Linked DNA regions of Homo sapiens. The protein of the gene in region 4 purifies or fractionates together with the protein of the main gene of each other region. This does not show direct contact. Each region holds a gene or a part of one and is shown on either strand. Other genes may lie near its edges.

Region 1 (3,316 bases), on a different chromosome or scaffold from region 4:
TGGCTACCCAGCTGAACACTTTTCTAGCCTCCCCTGAGTTAGGGCTCATATGCCTGGGTTCTGACCAATGGAATGTAAGCGGAAGTGATGCAGGCTACTTCCACTCAAGCTCTAGAAGGAAACATATCCTTCCTTTCTCTCCCTCTTGGCTCTGGAGGGGGCGTGGGAGCACAAACAGCCTCTTAGACCTAGGAGTGAAAGCTTGAAGTTGAAGAGGGCAGAATCCAGGTAAGTGGAACCTGGCTCCAGGTCATCAGTGGTTTTACGATTACCTATGCTCACACTATCACAGGAAGGAGGAATAAACTCCTGTCCTGCTTAAGCCTCTGTCGTATTTGGGTCCCATCAGAGCAGCTGGGACCTTGGTTACTCAGCCCTCTGCCATCTCACCAGGGGGAAGTTGAGGCTGCTCTTCTGCAGAGGGGGCCTCAGGTCACTAGTGAAAGGATGATGCCTACCCACCCTCTCAGCCTCTCACACACAGATGTGTGCATACACAGACACAACCTCAAGCCCAGGTGTCTTTACCTTCTTTGCTGTCAGAGTGTTTCAGAGGCTGCAGGGCTGTAAAAAAAGGAAGGCGCACACGGTGAGGGAGGAACCATGGGAAGTGGTGGGGTAGGGAGTCAGGCAGAGGGAGGAGTGAGGGCTGGAAGGGGCGGGACAAGTCAGCAGAGTGGGACCACTTCATAGCACAAGGGAAGGGGCCCTAGGTTGCTGTCCCAAGCCCCAGTCCCAGGTCCCAGTTCCACTCTGTGGCTTGTCATTCTCCTCTCTGGGCCTTAGTTTTCTGCATCTATAGAATGGGACAACCCTCGAGCCCTCCACCTCCAGCTGGAGATGCGGAAGTGCCCTGAGCCCAATGTACACACAGGGTGATGTGAGAAGCTAAAGGAGGCTGGCAGATTTGCAGGTGGGCCTGGGACCATGTGGAATGAGACTGACCAACTCCATCACCCACACTCTTCTCCTCACTCCCTCCCTTCTGCCAACTACATCTGCCTCTGAGCATGAAGAATGAGGTCTGATCCCAGAGCTGTCTCTACGCCTGCCACGCTGGGCACCAACAGGCAAAGAATTAATTGGCATAATTTATAGCAGTCCCCAAGTGTCAATCTCCTGCCCTTCCTTCTGCGGGGGTGGGGAGGGAACTGGCATTAACTGGAACCATCCCAAATGGCTCAGCGGAAACCTGCCTCTCCCAGCCCAGGATCCCCTGGGAGTCGGCCATGGGCACCAGTGCCTTGGCACCCACCCAAGCTGGGCCCCCAGCTTACTGTGCCATGCTCCTATGTCCTTTGCAAGTACCTCCCTCTCCAGTCACCTGAAAGAGCTTCAAAACAGCCCTCTGGTGCCATCAGGGCAGGGTCAGGATGACATTTTACAGATGGGAAACTGATGCCCAGAGGAGCAAGGCACCTTGCCCAAAGCTACACAGTCTGTAACTAGAACAGTATTGTCTTAAGCTGTTTGCCTAATAGTAATAGGACTCCAGAGTATTAAGCACTTGGCACTAGATATGATACTAGGTCCTTTATATACATTATCTCAATTAATAATTCAAACAACCTATGAATCTGTGATTATCCTCATTTTACATAAGAGGAAACCGAAGCCAGAGAGGCAAAGCATCTTGCTCAAGGCCACTCTGTTTACCTGAGATGGAGCAGGAACTTAAACCCAGACTCCCTATCTCCGGAGCCCCTGCTCCCACCCCTAGGAAGCCACCAGACTCCACGGTGTGGGGCCAATCAGGTGGAATCGGCCCTGGCAGATGGGTAAAGGTTGGCAGGAGAAATGAAGCCACACCTGGGAGGGAACTGGGTGATCCACTTCCTGCCTAACTCTGGGCAAAGAGCAGACTCACCGGGGTGGGGAGGTCTGAGTCCACAGAACACATTTCATTCAAACCTTACAGCAAATCTGGCCCCTCCAGATCCTAGAGTCCTCTCTCCTTTCCCATATGTCCCTCTCCCAGCCAAGAGGGCCAGCTCCAAGTTCAGACTCACCTGTCTTGGAGCCTTCTCCCTCCCCATCCTGGTCCTCAGCTCCTGCAAAGGCAAGAACTCAGAATAAACAAAAATCTTTTGCAAGCCCATTTTCATGCCAGCACTTTCCCACCTGAGAGTGCAGGAAGCTGGTGAACAGGGCCTGAGTGGGCCTGACCTGCGGACCAAATGCTAGACACGGGTTAGAGCCCGAGAGCAGAGCACAGCAGAGCCGAGCCTGTGACAACATGAAGGGGCTCCCAGCCTGGAGCCCACCACTCACCCAGCCAAAAACTACCCAGCCTGGCGCCCCCACCACTCACCCAGCCAAAGACCATCCACCCAGCCTGGAGTGCACCACTTACCCAGTCAAGGACCATCCACCCAGCCTGGAGCCCACCACTCACCCAGCCAAAGACCATCCACTCAACCTGGAGCCCCCGCCACACACCCAGCCAAAGACCATCCACCTACCCTCCACCAGCCCACCCACCCATCACCTCACCCATCCGCTCGCTCAGTAGCCCTGCCAACCATCAACCTCCAACAGATGTAACCAACCAGCCGTCTACCTGCTCATCCTTCCACCTGTCTACCTCACAAGTACTCACCTATCTGCCAACTGACCACTCTTCTTCCCTCTCCTTCCCAACCTCCAGCCATCCCCAGCCTCTGACTACCCATCTACTCTCATGCATCTGTTTACCCACCAGGGTCAACTCACCACCCACCAATGTCCTCTCACCCACTTACCAGTCACCAATGCCAGCTCGGGCTGACCCTCAGCCCCGCAAATGGCAGCTGCTTCAAACTCACTCCAAGGCAGGCACGATCACCCCCAGTGCCATGCACGCCCCTGGCATGCCTACATTTGTGCCGCACAGCTTCCATGCTCTGGCCTGCTCTCTCACACACACGTGACTGACTTACACTTTCACAGGCACACTTGTTGGCACACACTCATCCCTTTGTAGCACTTGGCCTTACACTCCCACCACCTTCCAGTCACACTCATCCACATTCATCCTGTGGTATCTGCACATGGACAGACAGGCTCACGCTTGTTCACACACACAAGACGTAGACTCAAGGTCACACACAGACAAATCCAGCCCCATCTGCACACACACACTCGTTCTGTCACTAGAAAGTGACACTCTATTGACATCAAAGACAGCAACATACCCCAAGACACATAAGTGTGCATGCGCACGCACACACATACACACACACTCACCTGCATTCTCCTCCTCACAGCTCTGTTTGATCTTTCTCCAGCACACGAAAGCCAGGGCCACCAGCAGTGCAATGAGACAGACAGACAGCCC
Region 2 (3,500 bases), on a different chromosome or scaffold from region 4:
CCCAGCACAGAGCCTGGCATTCAGGAAATGGCAGGGGGTGGGAGTGAGGGTATCAGTGGCCTCTTGGTCCGGTGACTAAAATAACTTTACTGGGTCGGAAAGCTCTCCCTGAACTTCCAGAACAAAGCATGGGCCCCACATGGTGCTACCTCCCAGCAAGAAAGGGGTTGGGAAACAAAGGGCTGGGGCCCAGCGAGCCCCCTGACTTGTGTTTTCCAGACCTGTCTTCCTCGCTGGAAGTTTTGCGTGAGTGACACAGAAAACAACCTGGGCTTTGCGTTGGGCCCCATGTTTGTCAAAGCAACCTTCGCCGAGGACAGCAAGAGCATAGTAAGTGCCTTCCCCGTGGACACAGGCTGTGAGGTCACACTTGTTGTGGCCTGCACAGACCTGCCAGTTCACACTCCAGCCCACCCTGGGCCTTTCCTGCTCCTGGGCAGGGGACCTTAGGGCCACAGCCTCAATGCAGAGGCTTCACTTCCTCGAGCCCTGGGTAATGGGAGTCTCACGAGGGCAGCTCTTCAGTGCCAGGCCCTTATCTGCACGAGCTCATGTGATCCTCCCAGCAGCCTGCAAGGCTGTGACAGCCATCCCCACCTCCAAGGGCTGTGAACGACCCAGAGAGAATGTTGGCAGAACAGCTCTGGCCCAGAGGGTGACATTTTTCTTATTTTGTGGGTGACAGGTTTGTTCTAGACAGGCAGAGGAGTGCCATGGCAGAGCGCCTTGGAGACAGCCCGGCCTAAGCTCAGATCCTGGCCTCACCGCTGGTCGGGTGGCCTGGGACAGTTCTTACATCATCTGCAATGTGGAGACGGGGGCATTCCTCCCACAGAGAGAGATTAAATGAGATGCCACACACTGGGCACCGGCATACAATAAGGGTTCAGCTAATGGGAGTGGTCATTTTATTGTTACAATCTTGATGACAAATAGTATTCATTATGTAGCTGTCATCTGCAGCCGGAGGTGAGCCAACCGCAATTCAAATCCATTACAGTGACTGGCCTGTGAGCAGCTGGGCAGGGTCTGAGTTGGGGTCTGCTGGCCCCTCTGCTCTTGTTGCCGCACAGCTCTGCCTTCCCCTTCTCTAGAACCTTCAACTTTCCATCTTCGAGCTTGTCTGCTCATGACATTGTCTCCCTCAAGAACACCTGTCTATATCCAGCCTGAGCATGGTATTTCCGAAGCTGCTCCTCGGAACATGAGTACTCTAGATCTTAAAGCCCGCTCCATCAAAAAGGAATGCTGTGGTCCAATAAGGCAATAAGGCTGGGAGAGGCTGTGTCTTCTCCCCTCTCTGGAAGAATCACGGTGCCTATTATTACCATATTAAAGGCTCTGAAAAGTACCACAGCAGAGACTTTTCCAACTTTCCCGAAGCTCATCCTAAGCTTATTGGAGCATGGAGCCCTGTGTGTGGAAGGCCAGTCCTGTCTTGCAGGGTGTTCACGTTAGGAGCGTGGTTTGGAAGCACAGCTGTGGCTCCCCTTCTCACCCAGCCTGACGCTTGGAAAATTGAGTTTAATCTCTGGCCATCATTGTTCTGCACGGGGTGCCTGTTGCATTTACCTGAGACCAGTGCGCAGACCTTACTGCTGTGATGTGTATCTCCTCAGGCCACCGAGATCATCCTGGAGATTAAGAAGGCATTTGAGGAAAGCCTGAGCACCCTGAAGTGGATGGATGAGGAAACCCGAAAATCAGCCAAGGAAAAGGTGAGGCTGGCCAGGCACTTGGAGGGGGTGCTGCGGCGTCCAGCACAGATAGAGGAGGGTGGGGGAAGGAGAGGCCGGTTTTTTTGTTTGTTTTTTGAGGCAGAGTTTCGTTCTTGTTACCCAGGCTGGAGTGCTATGGTGCGATCTTGGCTCACCGCAACCTCCGCCTCCCGGGTTCAAGCGATTCTCCCACCTCAGCCTCCCGAGCAGCTGGGATTACAGGCGTGCGCCACCACGCTCGGTTAATTTTGTATTTTTAGTAGAGATGGGGTTTCTCCATGTGGGTCAGGTTGGTCTCAAACTCCCGACCTCAGGTGATCGACCCGCCTTGGCCTGCCAAAGCGCTGGCATTATAGGCATAAGCCACCGCGCCCGGTGAGGCCAGTTCTGTCCGGCAGCACAGCCTGGATGCTGTCTCGCCTTCAGCGGGTGAGCGGTCTAGGCCTAGCAGGATTCGGGGTAGGCCTCAAGCACATGATTGCTTGGATGTCTGTAGAAGACAAACCTCGCTGAGTGTACGGGGAAAAGGTGCAGGAAAACGCAGCACGTCCCGTGGGTCGGGAAGGCTCTGGCACCCTCCAGTGGGATGGGAGTCAGGGAAGACTTCCCTTGGGAAAGTGACATTTAAACAGAGACCTAAGGGATAAGTAGAAGTTTTGCAAGGGGGAAACCTTTCCAGAAAAAGACATGAAAGCCCAAGGCAGGCAGGGCCTGGCTCTGGTTCCCCTTGGCCCAGACTATGAGCCCAGCACCCAAGTTGCTCAGGCTGGCCTGGTCGATGTTGCCGGGCACTCACTTCCTCTGTCTGTCCTGTCCAGGCCGATGCCATCTACAACATGATAGGATACCCCAACTTCATCATGGATCCCAAGGAGCTGGACAAAGTGTTTAATGACGTGAGTAGCTGCTGCCCTGCCCCCTTGCGTTCCTAAATGCCCCCTTAGAAAAGGGCCGAGGCAGGGCTGGGTCCAGATGGGGTGCTAGAGGCAGCATGGTTGTCAAAACACACAGGGATGATGTGGTGTGGGGCTTGGGTATGGGTCAGGCATGAGGAAGCCTCTTCTTCTTCTTAATTTGGCTCCTGGGTCAGCTGGAGGCCCTGCCTCCCCATAGCCACCATCCATCAGCAGTGCCCACCAGTCAGTACAGAACCCGTGCTGTGTGCCCCCTGGAAGTGGTCAGCTCCATTTAATATGTGGGAAATAATGGAGGAAACAGACCCCAGAAGGTGCAGAGAGAATTGGTGGCCCTCAGACATCAGGGGTGGGGTATGAAGTGGGAAAACCCCCACACCACCTCCTCCCTCCCTGGTCGTGCTTCCAGTTACCTCCTGTCCCTGCGGCCCTCCTCCACCTCCCCAGAAACCCGGACCTCTGATTTTGACTTTGAAATGCTAATGGGAAAGAAGCAGCTTAAATCCAGGTGCATTTTTAAGCTTGGTTTGGGCAATGGAGGTGGTTGATACATCCCTGCTTATTAGAACTTTTGGCAAATCACTCAGTTAGGTGGATTGTGCTTCTGCCTCAAATTATGAAGTTTTATATCTTCTTGTGATTGAAATACTTGAATTCAGGTATTTAAGAAAAAATTTTTTTTGAGACAGGGTCTCATTCTGTTGCCCAGACTGGAGTGTAGTGGTGCTATCTCAGCTCACTGCAACCTCCGCCTCCCAGGCTGGCTCATATTCATGAGCCACCATGCCCAGCCTGAATTCAGGCATTTAAAAATCTAATAACCTCTCGTCATGGTTATATTTAGAACCTAAGACTATAAAGACTCATT
Region 3 (3,069 bases), on a different chromosome or scaffold from region 4:
CCACCATCAGGTACCTGCTTACCCAGGCTGGGCCTTGCTCAGAATTCCCCCAGGGGATCTCCTCCTCTCCCCTCGCTTCAGCCTGGAGGAAAAGAGGGGAGCGTGGGGGTGGGAAGGGAGAGAGGTTCCAGGAGGGCCTGGGATAAGGAATGTGTGACAAGTTAACCCAGGAACATGGACAGAAAGGCTGGAGGTGACTATGCAAGAGTGGTGAAGGGACTTGGGCCCTGCCATGACGTCCCTTCTGCTTTCTCTCACCCTCACTCCCCTCTGAGTCCAGATTGGGGAGCACAATAAAAGAAGAGCCCCCTAGTGTTGGCCAGGCCTGGGAGATTGAGAGGGAAGTGACCCTTGGCCTCACGTGGGCATTCCACCTCCACATGGGGAGCCAGAGTGACCGGGCCCGGGGAGTGGGCTCTCTCTCCTCTCCTGGATGGGAATCTGCGAAGCTGCCCCCAGTGACCTTCTGTCGGTTCCCTTCTCAGCTACCCAATGCTGCTGCATGTGGCAGCCCAGATCGCCTCCGGCATGCGCTATCTGGCCACACTCAACTTTGTACATCGGGACCTGGCCACGCGGAACTGCCTAGTTGGGGAAAATTTCACCATCAAAATCGCAGACTTTGGCATGAGCCGGAACCTCTATGCTGGGGACTATTACCGTGTGCAGGGCCGGGCAGTGCTGCCCATCCGCTGGATGGCCTGGGAGTGCATCCTCATGGTGAGCAGCCCGAGGACAGCCAGGTTGGAGCAGGGCAGGTGGGAGAACACTGGCCGCCACTCACAGCCCTGGTCTCCATCAGTCACACACTTTCTCTGGGTTGCATTTTACAGAATCTCATCTATAATATGAGGTTCTCCTAGCCCAAGGGACTGGGGAAAGCAGGAGCTGCAGTGTGATGGGCAAGAATCCAGGAGCCAAGAGTGGGTACTGGGGATGGAGACAGGGTGGCAGAGAGCTCAAGAGATGAGGTTGGGCGAGGAAGCTGGAGATAGAAGGGGTTGGGTAGGGAGACCGAAGGTCAGGACCAGAAAGTGGGGGTGGATGGAGAGGAAGGAGGAGCAGAAGGAAGAGGTGGGCCAGGGCCCTGGAGAGAGGACCAGAGCATGGAGAGGAAAGGCAGAGCCCAAGGGAGAGGAGTTGGAAAAGGTGGCCAGCGGAGGAGAGTGGAGAGCCTGGCGTCAGGAGGGATCAGGCCTGAGTGGAGCCCAGAGTGGATCTGGGGCTTCCAATAGGAAGGGAGGAGGGTCTACGTTGCCTGATGTCCCTGTCTGTTTTTGCTGCCTTCTCTGCATCCCAGGGGAAGTTCACGACTGCGAGTGACGTGTGGGCCTTTGGTGTGACCCTGTGGGAGGTGCTGATGCTCTGTAGGGCCCAGCCCTTTGGGCAGCTCACCGACGAGCAGGTCATCGAGAACGCGGGGGAGTTCTTCCGGGACCAGGGCCGGCAGGTCAGAGTGGAGGAGAGGGAAGATGGGTCCGAGGCGGGGGACAGAAGGGGCAGAGTTGTCATCTTGGAGACTAAAGAATATTTGTTCCCTGACTCTCATCCACACTGCCACAATGCAGGTGTACCTGTCCCGGCCGCCTGCCTGCCCGCAGGGCCTATATGAGCTGATGCTTCGGTGCTGGAGCCGGGAGTCTGAGCAGCGACCACCCTTTTCCCAGCTGCATCGGTTCCTGGCAGAGGATGCACTCAACACGGTGTGAATCACACATCCAGCTGCCCCTCCCTCAGGGAGCGATCCAGGGGAAGCCAGTGACACTAAAACAAGAGGACACAATGGCACCTCTGCCCTTCCCCTCCCGACAGCCCATCACCTCTAATAGAGGCAGTGAGACTGCAGGTGGGCTGGGCCCACCCAGGGAGCTGATGCCCCTTCTCCCCTTCCTGGACACACTCTCATGTCCCCTTCCTGTTCTTCCTTCCTAGAAGCCCCTGTCGCCCACCCAGCTGGTCCTGTGGATGGGATCCTCTCCACCCTCCTCTAGCCATCCCTTGGGGAAGGGTGGGGAGAAATATAGGATAGACACTGGACATGGCCCATTGGAGCACCTGGGCCCCACTGGACAACACTGATTCCTGGAGAGGTGGCTGCGCCCCCAGCTTCTCTCTCCCTGTCACACACTGGACCCCACTGGCTGAGAATCTGGGGGTGAGGAGGACAAGAAGGAGAGGAAAATGTTTCCTTGTGCCTGCTCCTGTACTTGTCCTCAGCTTGGGCTTCTTCCTCCTCCATCACCTGAAACACTGGACCTGGGGGTAGCCCCGCCCCAGCCCTCAGTCACCCCCACTTCCCACTTGCAGTCTTGTAGCTAGAACTTCTCTAAGCCTATACGTTTCTGTGGAGTAAATATTGGGATTGGGGGGAAAGAGGGAGCAACGGCCCATAGCCTTGGGGTTGGACATCTCTAGTGTAGCTGCCACATTGATTTTTCTATAATCACTTGGGGTTTGTACATTTTTGGGGGGAGAGACACAGATTTTTACACTAATATATGGACCTAGCTTGAGGCAATTTTAATCCCCTGCACTAGGCAGGTAATAATAAAGGTTGAGTTTTCCACAACTGTGTGAGTGGGTTCCTTGGGAATTTGGTAACTCTGCCTCCTGCACCTCCCTCTGAACCCACTTCCCAACCCACTTCCCATCTTCCTTTTTTCCTGCCTCCTCATTCCATTTCCCATCACCTGTTTTGCCCAGCATTGTGTTCTGTTTCTGGATAATCCAGGCCTTTGCCTGTGGGACCTCAGGAGATGCATGAATGTCTGAGTGCATGAACCTTCTCAACTCAGAGGGGTGCTCTGGTGGAGGCCTGGAAGGAATGCAGTCAGGCCAGGGGTGCTGAACCTTTTTTGTGCCATAAACGCCTTTGGCAGTCTGTAGAGGTCTACTGAGTCCTCCTCAGAATTAGGTTTTAAAACCTATAAAATGGACCAGGCATAGTGGCTCACCCCTGTAATCCCAGCACTTTGGGAGGCTGAGGTGGGTAGATCACTTGAGGCCAGGAGTTCGAGACCAACCTGGCCAACATAGCAAAACCCCATCTCTACTAAAGATACAAAAATT
Region 4 (4,025 bases):
TGAGTAATAAACTAAAGGGCCATGAGTGATTAAGGAATTTGGCCACTCTTTAGAATTAATTGGGAGCTATTTAACTACCTTGAGCAAAATAAATCACGACTTTTGAAAGAAGGTTGAACGGGAAGACAAACTCAGAAGCTCCTGCAGTAATCAAGGACAGAAGCAATTGTTAAATGCACCTCTTAGGCTGTTATCAGTAGAAATACGAAATAAAAGATAAATATGCAAAAACATTAATGGCACAATAAACACTCACGGTTTTGCCTTTAGACTTGAGATACACTAAAATCTAGATTTAATTAATCGACTTGGACGTTGGAATAAGATAGTAAAACTCACAACAAAACTTTGTAGAACTTAGTCAGGAAAAGAATCTCAAGCATAGCTTTAAAAACAGAAATTGCCCCGAGTACTAAGGATGAGCAATAATGAAATTAAAACATATTGTAATAACATTACACAAACTATATTGGAGACTACAAAGAAGAGATTATTCATAGATTATAAAGCTTGGAAAGAATCAAAACAACACATTTCTGGAAACAGATTGTATAAATGCTACAAAAGAGAAAAATATATTTTCTCCCCACGCAACACAAGACCTTAAAGTCAATTCTCGCTTTTCTTGCAATATTTTATACCTTTTCAATTCATAGAATTACTCAAGAAAACTACCTCAGTTGGTTGCTACTTTTTGTTGATTCCTTTTACCAGACATGACTAAGTTTCTTTTTCATCAGTAGATTTCTGGGCTCCTATATTCACTAGAGATTGCAACTCCTGGATTTCTCTTACACTAGAATCCTATTTCGAGCCATATGGGAGATTCTGAATTCCAGAACAAAAGAATTTTGTAATTTAAAATTCGTGATTGCTCAATGGAATCATTTTAATTGTTACTTCATTTCTGTCGTTATTTAAAACTTAAGTGGAGAGTTTTCTCAGGGATAAGAAAACCACAATCAAGGTCATACAAAACTTTTAGAGGCAGTCAGTCTGCTAAGAAGGCTCCAGCAAGAGAAACGGGATCTTCTGTTTCAACAATCATTACTTAAGAAAAAATTAAGAAAATGAAATAAGTTTTGCAGAATAACTGTGAAATTTTTATTCATGAAATATGTACTTACACTTTGGGCCACGTGATGTCACTCTTTGCCGCGATGTTCTCTCTGAATCCAGACAAATACAGCCCTTTTCCCATGGGAAAGAGGCTCAATTCTTTTTCACTCTCTCTGTGCTGAACGATGGCGAACACAGCAGAATGGGACTGACGAAATCAGATGATTTCTTCTAATTTGGAGGCAATTTTCACTAATTAGAAGAAGACTGAGTATTTGAAATGTTATACTCAAGTCGAGGAGATCCAGAGGGTCAGCCTCTACTGCTCTCGCTTCTGATCCTCGCAATGTGGGTGGTGGGGAGCGGCCAGCTCCACTACTCCGTCCCGGAGGAAGCCGAACACGGCACCTTCGTGGGCCGCATCGCGCAGGACCTGGGGCTGGAGCTGGCGGAGCTGGTGCCGCGCCTGTTCCAGTTGGATTCCAAAGGCCGCGGGGACCTTCTGGAGGTAAATCTGCAGAATGGCATTTTGTTTGTGAATTCTCGGATCGACCGCGAGGAGCTGTGCGGGCGGAGCGCGGAGTGCAGCATCCACCTGGAGGTGATCGTAGACAGGCCGCTGCAGGTTTTCCATGTGGACGTGGAGGTGAAGGACATTAACGACAACCCTCCAGTGTTCCCAGCGACACAAAAGAATCTGTTCATCGCGGAATCCAGGCCGCTTGACTCTCGGTTTCCACTAGAGGGCGCGTCCGATGCAGATATCGGGGAGAACGCCCTGCTCACTTACAGACTGAGCCCCAATGAGTATTTCTTCCTGGACGTGCCAACCAGCAACCAGCAGGTAAAACCTCTTGGACTTGTATTACGGAAACTTTTAGACAGAGAAGAAACTCCGGAGCTTCATTTATTGCTCACGGCCACCGATGGAGGCAAACCCGAGCTGACTGGCACCGTTCAATTACTCATCACGGTACTGGACAACAATGACAATGCCCCAGTGTTCGACAGAACCCTGTATACGGTGAAATTACCAGAAAACGTTTCTATCGGAACGCTGGTGATTCACCCCAATGCCTCAGATTTAGACGAAGGCTTGAATGGGGATATTATTTACTCCTTCTCCAGTGATGTTTCTCCAGATATAAAATCCAAGTTCCACATGGACCCCTTAAGTGGGGCAATCACAGTGATAGGACATATGGATTTTGAAGAAAGTAGAGCACACAAGATCCCAGTCGAGGCTGTCGATAAAGGCTTCCCACCCCTGGCTGGTCATTGTACACTTCTTGTGGAAGTTGTGGATGTAAATGACAATGCTCCACAGTTGACTATCAAAACGCTCTCGGTTCCTGTAAAAGAGGACGCACAACTGGGGACAGTTATTGCCCTGATTAGTGTGATCGACCTAGACGCAGATGCCAACGGGCAGGTTACCTGCTCCCTGACGCCCCACGTCCCCTTCAAGCTGGTGTCCACCTACAAGAATTACTACTCGTTGGTGCTGGACAGAGCTCTGGACCGCGAGAGTGTGTCCGCCTACGAGCTGGTGGTTACCGCGCGGGACGGGGGCTCGCCTTCACTGTGGGCCACGGCCAGGGTGTCTGTGGAGGTGGCCGACGTGAACGACAACGCACCAGCGTTCGCGCAGTCCGAGTACACGGTGTTCGTGAAGGAGAACAACCCGCCGGGCTGCCACATCTTCACGGTGTCTGCGCGGGACGCTGACGCGCAGGAGAACGCCCTGGTGTCCTACTCGCTGGTGGAGCGGCGGTTGGGCGAGCGCTCGCTGTCGAGCTACGTGTCAGTGCACGCGGAGAGCGGCAAGGTGTACGCGCTGCAGCCGTTGGACCACGAGGAGCTGGAGCTGCTACAGTTCCAGGTGAGCGCGCGCGACGCGGGCGTGCCGCCTCTGGGCAGCAACGTGACGCTGCAGGTGTTCGTGCTGGACGAGAACGACAATGCGCCGGCGCTGCTGACACCTCGGATGAGGGGCACTGACGGCGCAGTGAGCGAGATGGTGCTGCGGTCGGTGGGCGCCGGCGTAGTGGTGGGGAAGGTGCGCGCAGTGGACGCCGACTCGGGCTACAACGCGTGGCTTTCATACGAGCTGCAGCCAGAAACGGCCAGCGCGAGCATCCCGTTCCGCGTGGGGCTGTACACGGGCGAGATCAGCACAACGCGTGCCCTGGACGAAACGGACGCACCGCGCCAGCGCCTACTGGTGCTGGTGAAAGACCACGGGGAGCCAGCGCTGACGGCCACGGCCACTGTGCTGGTGTCGCTGGTGGAGAGCGGCCAGGCGCCAAAGTCATCGTCGCGGGCGTCAGTGGGTGCCACGGGCCCCGAGGTGACGCTGGTGGATGTCAACGTGTACCTGATCATCGCCATCTGCGCGGTGTCTAGCCTGTTGGTTCTCACGCTGCTGCTGTACACTGTGCTGCGGTGCTCGGCGATGCCCACCGAGGGCGAGTGCGCGCCTGGCAAGCCGACGCTGGTGTGTTCTAGCGCGGTGGGGAGTTGGTCGTACTCGCAGCAGAGGAGGCAGAGGGTGTGCTCTGGCGAGGGTAAGCAGAAGACCGACCTCATGGCCTTCAGCCCGGGCCTTTCTCCTTGTGCTGGATCTACAGAGCGAACGGGAGAACCCTCTGCTTCCTCAGATTCAACTGGGAAGGTGGGTTTTTCTAGCATTTTATTTATTTATATAATTTTTTTTCTTGAAAGATATTATCGATTACTCCCAGGGGCCGTTCAAATAGTTTTATTCATTTTTCTAGAAATCCAGCAGATTTTTTTTCTGATAAAGTAAACCCCTTAACATTGGAGCCGACTTTGTCTTGACTTCTAGTGAGAATTATAAACTGTATATTAAATAGATATTTTTTGGGTGCTGAATCAATTTTATTTAAATTTGTGATTAAAGTGACATTGAATTTCTGATGCTATGCTGCCATAACACTTGAAAA
Region 5 (3,500 bases), about 120 Mb from region 4:
TCACATATTGGGTTCCTGGAGAGTCCTTGCATCACCAGCTGTCTCCTGAAGGAGTTGAGACAGTTGCTAAACCAGGCCCAAACCAGGCATCTGATGGTGAGATTACCCCATTGGTGGTTCACCCCTAACTAGAATCTTTTTTTTTCTCTGAGAAAGATTTTTGCTGTCACCCAGGCTGGAGGACAGTGGCACAATCATGGCCTACTGCAGCCTCAGCTTCCCTGAGCTCAGATGATCCTCCCACCACAGCCTCCCCAGCAGCTAGTGTGCACCAATATGCCCTGCTAATTTTTGTACTTTTTGTAGAGATGGGGTTTCGCCATGTTACCCAGGCTGGTCTTGAACTCCTAGACCCAAGTGATCCACCCACCTCAGTCTCCCAAAGTGCTGGGATTACAGGTGTGAGATACCATGCCCGGCCCTAACTAGAATCTTGAATTTTTTTGTATGTCATTTAGCAAATGTATGTTAAGTACTTGTGAACAACTAGTTGTCAAAATTCCTGTGAGCTAGCACAGGAGATAAGCAGATGTGTATAATTACCATGCCAGGCATGCATAGACCAAGTGATACCATGTTCAGAAAAGTCTCAGTCTTTTAAGTCTTCCTTTTGCATTTTCTCCCTGATTTCTCATTTTGCAGCTGGAGACTTGCAGTTGGTGGACATGACTGGGTGGAGGTAGAGGGGAGGATTAGAGGCTGTGGCAGTAGAGAAGACAATGAATGTCTGCTGGTGGTGGGAAGCATCCTCTTTCAGTATTTATCCCTCTCAAGTTTCCTTTTAGACAGCAGTGTTTATGACCTTTTGACTGATGTTGTAATCAGAGTGGTCAAAGCAAATACCATGGATAGTTAAGCAGCTGCCATCAGCAGTAGGCTTGGAATGCCCAGCACTCAGTCTCTCATCCTGTGGTTATATTCAGAATCCTACCCAGTCTCATAGATTTCAATATCTTCTGTAGGCCCGTGACCCCCACATTTATATCTCTAGTATAGCCTTCCCCTCAGCTGTAAACTGAAGATATCCAGCTGCCTCCTTGATATTTCTACTTGTGTCCAAAAGGAATCATTAACTTAACCTGTCCAAAATCAACTCCTGCTATGCATCCTAGTCTGCTCTCTGTAAGTAAATGGCATCTCTGTCCTTCTAGTTACTTAAGCCAAATGCCATGCAGTCTTCCTTTATTCTTCTATTTTCTTTCATGCTTACATTAGAATCGATCACCAAATTCTGCTTTATCTGCTTTTGCACTATCTATCTTCAGAGGCTGACTGCTTCTCACTACTTCTATGGCTACTACCCAGGTCCAGGGCACCATCATCTTTCGCCTGACTTCCTACAGTAGCCTCCTGCTGCCTGGTCTCCATATTTACATCCTTACTACCCACTATGTTCTATTCTCAAAACTGTAACTAGGGGGATCCTTTTAAAACATTAAGTGAGGTCAAACTCTGCTCAGATTCTTTCAAAGACTACCTATCTTACTCAAAGTAAAAGCCAAAGTATAATGGCCTGCAAGGCCCTGCACATAGTGTGGAGCATCTGTGGTTCTGTGGTTTTGTATTAGTTGCTCTCTGGATTCCTAACTATTCCTCTAATGCATCAAGTGTGTTTCTCAAGACCTTTGCATTTGCTGCTGTATTTGTTTATAGTATTCGCTTAGATATTCACTTGACTTGTCCCTCACTTCTTGCAGGCCTTGACATAAATTTCACCTTCTCAGTGTGGCCTTTTTTGACCACCTTCCATAAAATAACACCTACCCAATCCTTTTTATCCTGTTTTATTTTTCCTTATATCCCCTACTGCCATTGTGTGTATTGTATATTATTTATTGTCTCCTCCTTCTAGAATCTAAGCTTCAAGCCCTAGCCTTTTGTTGTTGTTACTCTTGTTCTTTACTGGGTGTTGCTTAAACCGTTAGTTTGAATTAAAATATGTAACTGATGGAAACGGTTCTCCCTTAGTCCAGATGATGTATTTTTCATTCCATTTACAGTTTTATTCTGTTGGTGCCTAGAAATGAGAAATTATATGAACTTTTCTTCCTAAAAATGAATATTAAATGATTTGTTTGTCTTAAAAAAATAAAAGTCAGCCAAGTGTGGTGGCATGAGCCTGTAGTACCAGCTGCTTAGGAGGCTGAGGTAAGAGGATCACCAGAGGCCAGGAGTTTCAGGCCAGCCTAGGTGACACAGTGAGACCCTGTCTCTAGGGGAAAAAAAGGAAAAAAAAAAAAGTTGATAATGCTTAATAAAGAAAACTTGGAAAATAGAAAGCCTTTACATACAAAGCTAGTGTTTATGGAGTGCTTACCTGCCAGACACTGTTCTAATAAGCATTTTATGTGGATTCACTCAGCTAAAAAATGACAAATTACCTAAATTTCACTCCCCTTCACAAGGTAACTTGTTTACTTATTTTGGACCTGAAACTTTTTATTGAAGAATAAACTTACAGAAAAGTGCATATATGTATACAGCTGGCCCTCTGTAGTCATAGATTCTCCATCTGTGCATCCAAACTAAAGTATTCGAAAAAAATTTTGTCCATACTGAACATGCACAGACTTATTTTTCTTGTCATTATTCCCTAAACGTTTAGTACTGTGTAACAACTATTTACATAGCATTTACAATGTATTAGGTATTAATAAGTAATATAGAGATGATTTAAAGTATGCAATGATTTAGGTTATATGCAAATGTTATACCATTTTATATCAGGGACTGGAACATCTGCAAATTTTAGTATCCTAGGGAGGTCCTGGAAGCAATCCCCCATGGATACCAAGGGATGACCGTACTTGTGATATCATGATTCAGTGTAGTGAAATTTTAAATATAACTAGCACCTAGATCAAGAAACAGCATGTTAATAATACCCTGACATTTCCCTTGTGTGTCCTTCCAGAAACTACCCCTCCTTTCTCCAAGAGTAACTACTATTCTGACTTATAGCTGCATAGATTGGTTTTGCCTGTTTTTATACTTTATATAAATGGAATCACAAAGAATGTACTCTTGGGTGTGGCTTCTTTTGCTCAACTTTATGTTTGGGAGACCCATTCATACTATTTTATATAGCTGTGGAGAGTTCTTACTGTTACAGAGTGTTCTGTTCAGTGCTCCACAACATCTAGTCTACTGTTGATACACATTTGAGTGGTTTCTAATTTGGGGCTATTACAAACAATGCTGCCACATCATTCTAATGTGTCTTTGGCAAATGTTTATAGGTTATCTGTTGTGTGTATATGTAGGAGTTGGGCCAGAGGATATACATATGTTCCATTTTAGAAAATACTGTCAAATTGGTTTCCAAAGTGGTTTTCTATACTCCCACTTGTAGTGAGGGAGAGTTTTTCATCTTAGCAACTTTGGTGGGTGTGTAGTGGCTTTAATTTGCATCTCCCTGATGATGATTACTGCAATCAAGAGGCTTTTTGCATATTCATTGGCCATTTGGATATCTTTTTGTGAGGTATCTGATCAAGCAT
Region 6 (3,336 bases), on a different chromosome or scaffold from region 4:
TATCTCTTCTCTTGTCTCTTTTTTCCTCTTTTTTTTCCTTCCCTTCCCCTCTCTTCGTTTCTTTTCTCTCCTCTTCTCTTCTTTCCTCTCTTCCCTTCCCTTTCTCTTTCTCTTCCCTATCCCTTCTCCTCTCCTCTCCCCTCCTTTTTTCTCCTCTCCTCTCCATTATTTATTTTTCCTTCTTCTCCTCCATCCCTTCCATCCTCTCTCTTCCCCTCTTCCTTCCTTCCTTTCTCCATTTCTTCCTCCTCTTTCCTTCAATCCTTCCTTTTGGATATGCTCATGGGTGTGTATTTGTCTGCCATTGTGGCATTATTTGAATTCAGAAAAGAGTGAAAAACTACTGGGATCTTCATTCCTGGGTCTAATTCCACATTTTTTTTTAAGAACACATCTGTAAAAATGTTCTGTACTAGCATATTCCCAGGAACTTCGTTAAATTTAATCTGGCTGAATATGGTAAATCTACTTTTCACTTTGCATTCTTTCTTTAGTCATACCATAATTTTAAACATTCAAAATATTTGTATATAATATTTGATTTTATCTGTCATTAAAATGTTAACCTTAAAATTCATGTTTCCAGAACCTATTTCAATAACTGGTAAATAAACACTATTCATTTTTTAAATATTCTTTTAATGGATATTTATTTCAATATAATAAAAAATTAGAGTTTTATTATAGGAAGAATTTACCAAAAGAAGGAGGAAGCAAGCAAGTTTAAACTGCAGCAATAGATTTGTCCATTCCAACCTCTCAAAATTCCCTTGGAGACAAAAATCTCTAGAGGCAAAGAAGAACTTTATATTGAGTCAACTTGTTAAAACATCTGCTTTTAGATAAGTTTTCTTAGTATAAAGTGACAGAAACAAATAAGTTAAACTCTAAGATACATTCCACTATATTAGCCTAAAACACTTCTGCAAAAATGAAACTAGGAGGATATTTTTAGAAACAACTGCTGAAAGAGATGCGGTGGGGAGATATGTAGAGGAGAACAGGGTTTCTGAGTCAAGACACACATGACAGAACAGCCAATCTCAGGGCAAGTTAAGGGAATAGTGGAATGAAGGTTCATTTTTCATTCTCACAAACTAATGAAACCCTGCTTATCTTAAACCAACCTGCTCACTGGAGCAGGGAGGACAGGACCAGCATAAAAGGCAGGGCAGAGTCGACTGTTGCTTACACTTTCTTCTGACATAACAGTGTTCACTAGCAACCTCAAACAGACACCATGGTGCATCTGACTCCTGAGGAGAAGACTGCTGTCAATGCCCTGTGGGGCAAAGTGAACGTGGATGCAGTTGGTGGTGAGGCCCTGGGCAGGTTGGTATCAAGGTTATAAGAGAGGCTCAAGGAGGCAAATGGAAACTGGGCATGTGTAGACAGAGAAGACTCTTGGGTTTCTGATAGGCACTGACTCTCTGTCCCTTGGGCTGTTTTCCTACCCTCAGATTACTGGTGGTCTACCCTTGGACCCAGAGGTTCTTTGAGTCCTTTGGGGATCTGTCCTCTCCTGATGCTGTTATGGGCAACCCTAAGGTGAAGGCTCATGGCAAGAAGGTGCTAGGTGCCTTTAGTGATGGCCTGGCTCACCTGGACAACCTCAAGGGCACTTTTTCTCAGCTGAGTGAGCTGCACTGTGACAAGCTGCACGTGGATCCTGAGAACTTCAGGGTGAGTCCAGGAGATGCTTCACTTTTCTCTTTTTACTTTCTAATCTTACATTTTGGTTCTTTTACCTACCTGCTCTTCTCCCACATTTTTGTCATTTTACTATATTTTATCATTTAATGCTTCTAAAATTTTGTTAATTTTTTATTTAAATATTCTGCATTTTTTCCTTCCTCACAATCTTGCTATTTTAAATTATTTAATATCCTGTCTTTCTCTCCCAACCCCCTCCCTTCATTTTTCCTTCTCTAACAACAACTCAAATTATGCATACCAGCTCTCACCTGCTAATTCTGCACTTAGAATAATCCTTTTGTCTCTCCACATGGGTATGGGAGAGGCTCCAACTCAAAGATGAGAGGCATAGAATACTGTTTTAGAGGCTATAAATCATTTTACAATAAGGAATAATTGGAATTTTATAAATTCTGTAGTAAATGGAATGGAAAGGAAAGTGAATATTTGATTATGAAAGACTAGGCAGTTACACTGGAGGTGGGGCAGAAGTCGTTGCTAGGAGACAGCCCATCATCACACTGATTAATCAATTAATTTGTATCTATTAATCTGTTTATAGTAATTAATTTGTATATGCTATATACACATACAAAATTAAAACTAATTTGGAATTAATTTGTATATAGTATTATACAGCATATATAGCATATATGTACATATATAGACTACATGCTAGTTAAGTACATAGAGGATGTGTGTGTATAGATATATGTTATATGTATGCATTCATATATGTACTTATTTATGCTGATGGGAATAACCTGGGGATCAGTTTTGTCTAAGATTTGGGCAGAAAAAAATGGGTGTTGGCTCAGTTTCTCAGAAGCCAGTCTTTATTTCTCTGTTAACCATATGCATGTATCTGCCTACCTCTTCTCCGCAGCTCTTGGGCAATGTGCTGGTGTGTGTGCTGGCCCGCAACTTTGGCAAGGAATTCACCCCACAAATGCAGGCTGCCTATCAGAAGGTGGTGGCTGGTGTGGCTAATGCCCTGGCTCACAAGTACCATTGAGATCCTGGACTGTTTCCTGATAACCATAAGAAGACCCTATTTCCCTAGATTCTATTTTCTGAACTTGGGAACACAATGCCTACTTCAAGGGTATGGCTTCTGCCTAATAAAGAATGTTCAGCTCAACTTCCTGATTAATTTCACTTATTTCATTTTTTTGTCCAGGTGTGTAAGAAGGTTCCTGAGGCTCTACAGATAGGGAGCACTTGTTTATTTTACAAAGAGTACATGGGAAAAGAGAAAAGCAAGGGAACCGTACAAGGCATTAATGGGTGACACTTCTACCTCCAAAGAGCAGAAATTATCAAGAACTCTTGATACAAAGATAATACTGGCACTGCAGAGGTTCTAGGGAAGACCTCAACCCTAAGACATAGCCTCAAGGGTAATGCTACGATTAAACTCCAACAATTACTGAGAAAATAATGTGCTCAATTAAAGGCATAATGATTACTCAAGACAATGTTATGTTGTCTTTCTTCCTCCTTCCTTTGCCTGCACATTGTAGCCCATAATACTATACCCCATCAAGTGTTCCTGCTCCAAGAAATAGCTTCCTCCTCTTACTTGCCCCAGAACATCTCTGTAAAGAATTTCCTCTTATCTTCCCATATTTCAGTCAAGAT
Region 7 (3,500 bases), on a different chromosome or scaffold from region 4:
AGAATTGATTTGGGTGATTTCTTCTGGCAATTTCAAAAGATATTTTTGTTGCCTAGACTTCTTATTCTTGCATGTACCACTAGAGGCTATAGTTTGCTTTCGTAAAGGAATTGGCATTTCTCTTGGACCAAACTCAAAGAAGCTGCGTCTAGGGCCTAAATCTTCTAATTTTAGCTACAGAGTAAGTATTTGATGGCATTTAGAGAGTGAGTTCGTGGAATTAATGCTATGTGAAATTGACATCATAAGCACGTGACATGTAGGTAATTTGTTCTTATTTCTTTTCACATTGGTATTGATTATTTGATAAGGCTTGGAAAGCACTTATTCAATACCTGACACACAGTGAGCATTCACTAAAAATTAGCTTTAACCATTATTTAAATTCTATTAATAAATTCTCAGGAGGACAAATTTAGATTTACAAGCTTCAGTATGAGTTTTTATAAATTTCAATCTGATTTTTTAATTGCCTTCTAAAATATTTATCCTATTCTCAGCATTATTACTTAATTTATACGGCAGAATTATGGGAAAATGCATTTTTCTGTTGCCTACTAATGGACAGTGTATAGTGTCATGGTTCTCACCACTTACAAACATCACTGGATTAAAATAAATCTCTATTTTAAATCCTTACTGACATATAAAATTTGTTCTTTTTTTCAAGTGAATATGCTTTTGTGTATGTGACTGTATTAAGAAAATTGAGTCTGAAGAAAATAAGAATTGACTTTATGGGTCTTTTGTAAAAGGAGGTTGTGTTACAATCACCATTGCCTAAAATATTTGTAAATATAACCTTTTTAGAAACGTATATATGGAGGCTGTGATTGTTGCCGAGTAAAAAGTATAAGGATTTGTTTTGTGAATCATTCTATTCAGCCTGATTTTAGATACACCTTGCTGGTAAGTGTTACTTAGCCATCAGTGTACCAGATGTTTGATTAACTACTATAGCAACCTGCCCTTGTGCTGTTGGGGACATATTACCCATCTACCCCGTGAATTATTAAAGCCTGGTGAAAAATTTTATTTCAAACCCTGTTTGGAAGCACGTGGAGAGTAGTGGGGTTCAGTTGTTGAGGAAAGGGTGAGGGCAGAGCATGCACTTAGGTCAGTTATGAATTGAAGGTGAATAGGAGGAGGAGAGAAAGAACAACCGACAATTCCAGCACAACCATGGGTGTGCCTGGGGGAACATGTGGTTCCATGTGACAGTTGAGGCATTTGGGAGACAACCCAGGTCTTGACGTTTGAGTACCGGTCACATGCTCACAGTTAGAGTTCATGAAAAGTTTTGTTTTTCCTCAGCCTTTGAGTAGGCACCACTGTTCCGCAGCCTTAGAATAGCCAAGGAAAAAGAAAGCCAGGGAAAAAGAAAGCTGCTTTGTTATTGTCCTTGCTTATCCTCTCGATTTTGCCACTCACTCTCCCTGTTTTCCCATGTGTGGAACACTTTCCTTTTGCTAAAAGTACCTGCGTATGAGAAGAAGGATGCCGATAAGTTGGGGATTGATTTTAAAAACAAGCAAAGATATGTTTTTTATGGTTAAATGATAATGAGGTGGGAGATGGGGAAGCAAAAGAGAGGCTTGCCTTAATATTTAATCTTAAACTTGGAAAATAATAGTGATCTGACTAAACATTGCCTCATTTTTGTCTGTATTGTTTTGAGTAGCTTAAAGGAAGAATAATGTTTATGCTACGTATTAACTCATTCAGTTTTTCAGTCTTTTCGATATTTCTCATTTGGATTTATCTCCATTGTGATTTTTCTGTCCACTTTGTAAGCCACAAAATACTCATTCCCTTCTATCAGTTTTAACAACTTAAATTTTTATATTTAAGTATTACATTTAAATAATTTAAGTCAATTCACACAAATATAAGGTAACTAACTTCTTTTAAGATGAAGTTTTATGAAATAATGTTTGCATAATTGTTTTTCATTTGTTCTTTGGTAAAAAGAAATAATATATTATTGTTATGATATATCTTAAATCACTGTGGATATTAACTCCTAGAAATACTTTACCAGCTGTTTACTTAGATAATAAAATTATATTATTGCAAGAAATCCTTGTCTCAACTTTCAAACAAGATGAGAAGAAAAATGAACTTGTGATTTCCACATTGATACATTTTCATATGCAACCTGAAATGGTAAAGTTATAAATAAACTATTTCATTATTAGTTTCTACAAGGGAAAAATAACTGAAGCAGCAAGCTTCTAATGTATTTTTTTAGCATAGTGTACCAGATATATTATGGTTTGCCCACTATCCTTTCAACTTACATTTGCATGTAGCTCTTCTTTGCCTCTCCAAAACTTAGGTTTATTTTAAGGCCTCAACCCAAGGCTTCCTCCATTAATGTAAGTGCAGTCAGTTATGATTTCACTCTTCTCTAAACTGACCACCTATTGTGCTCCTTTATCGAATACGGGCCTCTGGCATTTCTACCATACAACTGTGGAGATGAAACATAAATACGTTTATAAAAAGTACAAGCTTTCTCAGGCAGGGGATTTATCGTCTATCTCCTTTATGTACCCCATGATGCTTATTTAACATGGTGCTAAATGTGGTGAGCGCTCTCTGGGTGTTTTGTGAATTCATGTAAGATTAAAACATAATATTTTGGAAGTTATGCAACCCTTTAGACGAGTACACCCATACAAATTAGTCTATAAAAAGATTTAGGAATGACTACCAGAAGAATAATTGCATTTGTTTAGACATGCTATTATACATTAAAATCCCAGTTTCTTAAAGACTGTTTTTCTTTTTGAGATCATTAGGATCTTTTTTAAACTGATTCCTTTTTCCAGTTTGAGATACACACACACACCCACACACCCACCCACACCCACACCCACACATCCACACACCCTTGGTAGAAAATGTGAAAAATAAGGGGAAAAAATCCTCATGTTTTTCTACCGTACAAAGATAATCACTGTTAACATTTGTTTTGTTCTGCCAGACTTATCATTGGATTTTAAGTAACAGAATTGTAATCCTGTCATTTTCACTTAACATTGTAACACTTAAACTCTTTTCTATTCCAAATTCTTTGTAAATTTTATTTTAACAGTTTGCATTATAGCCTGCGGGAGCCGAGCCCTTTAATTGAATAGGTAGGAAGAGTGGATGGTGAAATGCCTATATTTTTCTCTCTTGTCTGCTATAAAAGACATTTGCAAAAGTTGCTTCCATGAGGCAGAAATTGAAATGGGACTCAAATTCAGGTGTACTGAATTCTGCTCTTGTGCTTTTTCCAGGAAACCAGAAGTAAACTTTAAGTAGCTGTTGCTAATAATGATGAGCATCACTGGAAAGCTCACTGTGTGCCAGGGACCGTGCTGTGTGCTTTGCCTGTGTTCTCTCATGATCCTTATATTAATATAACCCACCAGGTTGACACTATTTTCCCCATCTTATAGGTGAGGAAACTGAGGCTTAGGTCAAGTAATTTGCCCAAAATAGTATTCAGA

Evidence for each region.
Region 1: the proteins of PCDHA9 (region 4) and CD276 purify together in Homo sapiens (affinity purification with mass spectrometry; one large-scale study listed by BioGRID and IntAct). This does not show direct contact.
Region 2: the proteins of PCDHA9 (region 4) and ECE1 purify together in Homo sapiens (affinity purification with mass spectrometry; one large-scale study listed by BioGRID and IntAct). This does not show direct contact.
Region 3: the proteins of PCDHA9 (region 4) and DDR1 purify together in Homo sapiens (affinity purification with mass spectrometry; one large-scale study listed by BioGRID and IntAct). This does not show direct contact.
Region 5: the proteins of PCDHA9 (region 4) and ZNF622 purify together in Homo sapiens (affinity purification with mass spectrometry; one large-scale study listed by BioGRID and IntAct). This does not show direct contact.
Region 6: the proteins of PCDHA9 (region 4) and HBD purify together in Homo sapiens (affinity purification with mass spectrometry; one large-scale study listed by BioGRID and IntAct). This does not show direct contact.
Region 7: the proteins of PCDHA9 (region 4) and LONP2 purify together in Homo sapiens (affinity purification with mass spectrometry; 2 studies listed by BioGRID and IntAct, with this or other methods). This does not show direct contact.

What each region holds. Positions count from the first base shown.
Region 1 is NC_000015.10:73,708,383-73,711,698, reverse strand, and holds part of CD276 (CD276 antigen isoform a precursor), read right to left. Parts: coding exon 3,226-3,316; intron 2,052-3,225; coding exon 2,010-2,051; intron 565-2,009; coding exon 529-564; intron 1-528. UniProt on the Homo sapiens protein: May participate in the regulation of T-cell-mediated immune response. May play a protective role in tumor cells by inhibiting natural-killer mediated cell lysis as well as a role of marker for detection of neuroblastoma cells.
Region 2 is NC_000001.11:21,234,964-21,238,463, reverse strand, and holds part of ECE1 (endothelin-converting enzyme 1), read left to right. Parts: intron 1-219; coding exon 220-330; intron 331-1,619; coding exon 1,620-1,718; intron 1,719-2,536; coding exon 2,537-2,614; intron 2,615-3,500. UniProt on the Homo sapiens protein: Converts big endothelin-1 to endothelin-1.
Region 3 is NC_000006.12:30,897,588-30,900,656, forward strand, and holds the end of DDR1 (epithelial discoidin domain-containing receptor 1 isoform 2 precursor), read left to right. Parts: coding exon 1-10; intron 11-485; coding exon 486-720; intron 721-1,300; coding exon 1,301-1,450; intron 1,451-1,568; coding exon 1,569-1,709; 3' UTR 1,710-2,569; downstream 2,570-3,069. UniProt on the Homo sapiens protein: Tyrosine kinase that functions as a cell surface receptor for fibrillar collagen and regulates cell attachment to the extracellular matrix, remodeling of the extracellular matrix, cell migration, differentiation, survival and cell proliferation.
Region 4 is NC_000005.10:140,847,157-140,851,181, forward strand, and holds the start of PCDHA9 (protocadherin alpha-9 isoform 1 precursor), read left to right. Parts: upstream 1-1,225; 5' UTR 1,226-1,339; coding exon 1,340-3,733; coding exon of another isoform or gene 3,734-3,868; exon of another isoform or gene 3,869-4,025. UniProt on the Homo sapiens protein: Potential calcium-dependent cell-adhesion protein. May be involved in the establishment and maintenance of specific neuronal connections in the brain.
Region 5 is NC_000005.10:16,459,301-16,462,800, reverse strand, and holds part of ZNF622 (cytoplasmic 60S subunit biogenesis factor ZNF622), read left to right. Parts: intron 1-3,500. UniProt on the Homo sapiens protein: Pre-60S-associated cytoplasmic factor involved in the cytoplasmic maturation of the 60S subunit.
Region 6 is NC_000011.10:5,232,338-5,235,673, reverse strand, and holds HBD (hemoglobin subunit delta), read left to right. Parts: upstream 1-1,190; 5' UTR 1,191-1,240; coding exon 1,241-1,332; intron 1,333-1,460; coding exon 1,461-1,683; intron 1,684-2,581; coding exon 2,582-2,710; 3' UTR 2,711-2,836; downstream 2,837-3,336. UniProt on the Homo sapiens protein: Involved in oxygen transport from the lung to the various peripheral tissues.
Region 7 is NC_000016.10:48,271,800-48,275,299, forward strand, and holds part of LONP2 (lon protease homolog 2, peroxisomal), read left to right. Parts: intron 1-3,500. UniProt on the Homo sapiens protein: ATP-dependent serine protease that mediates the selective degradation of misfolded and unassembled polypeptides in the peroxisomal matrix.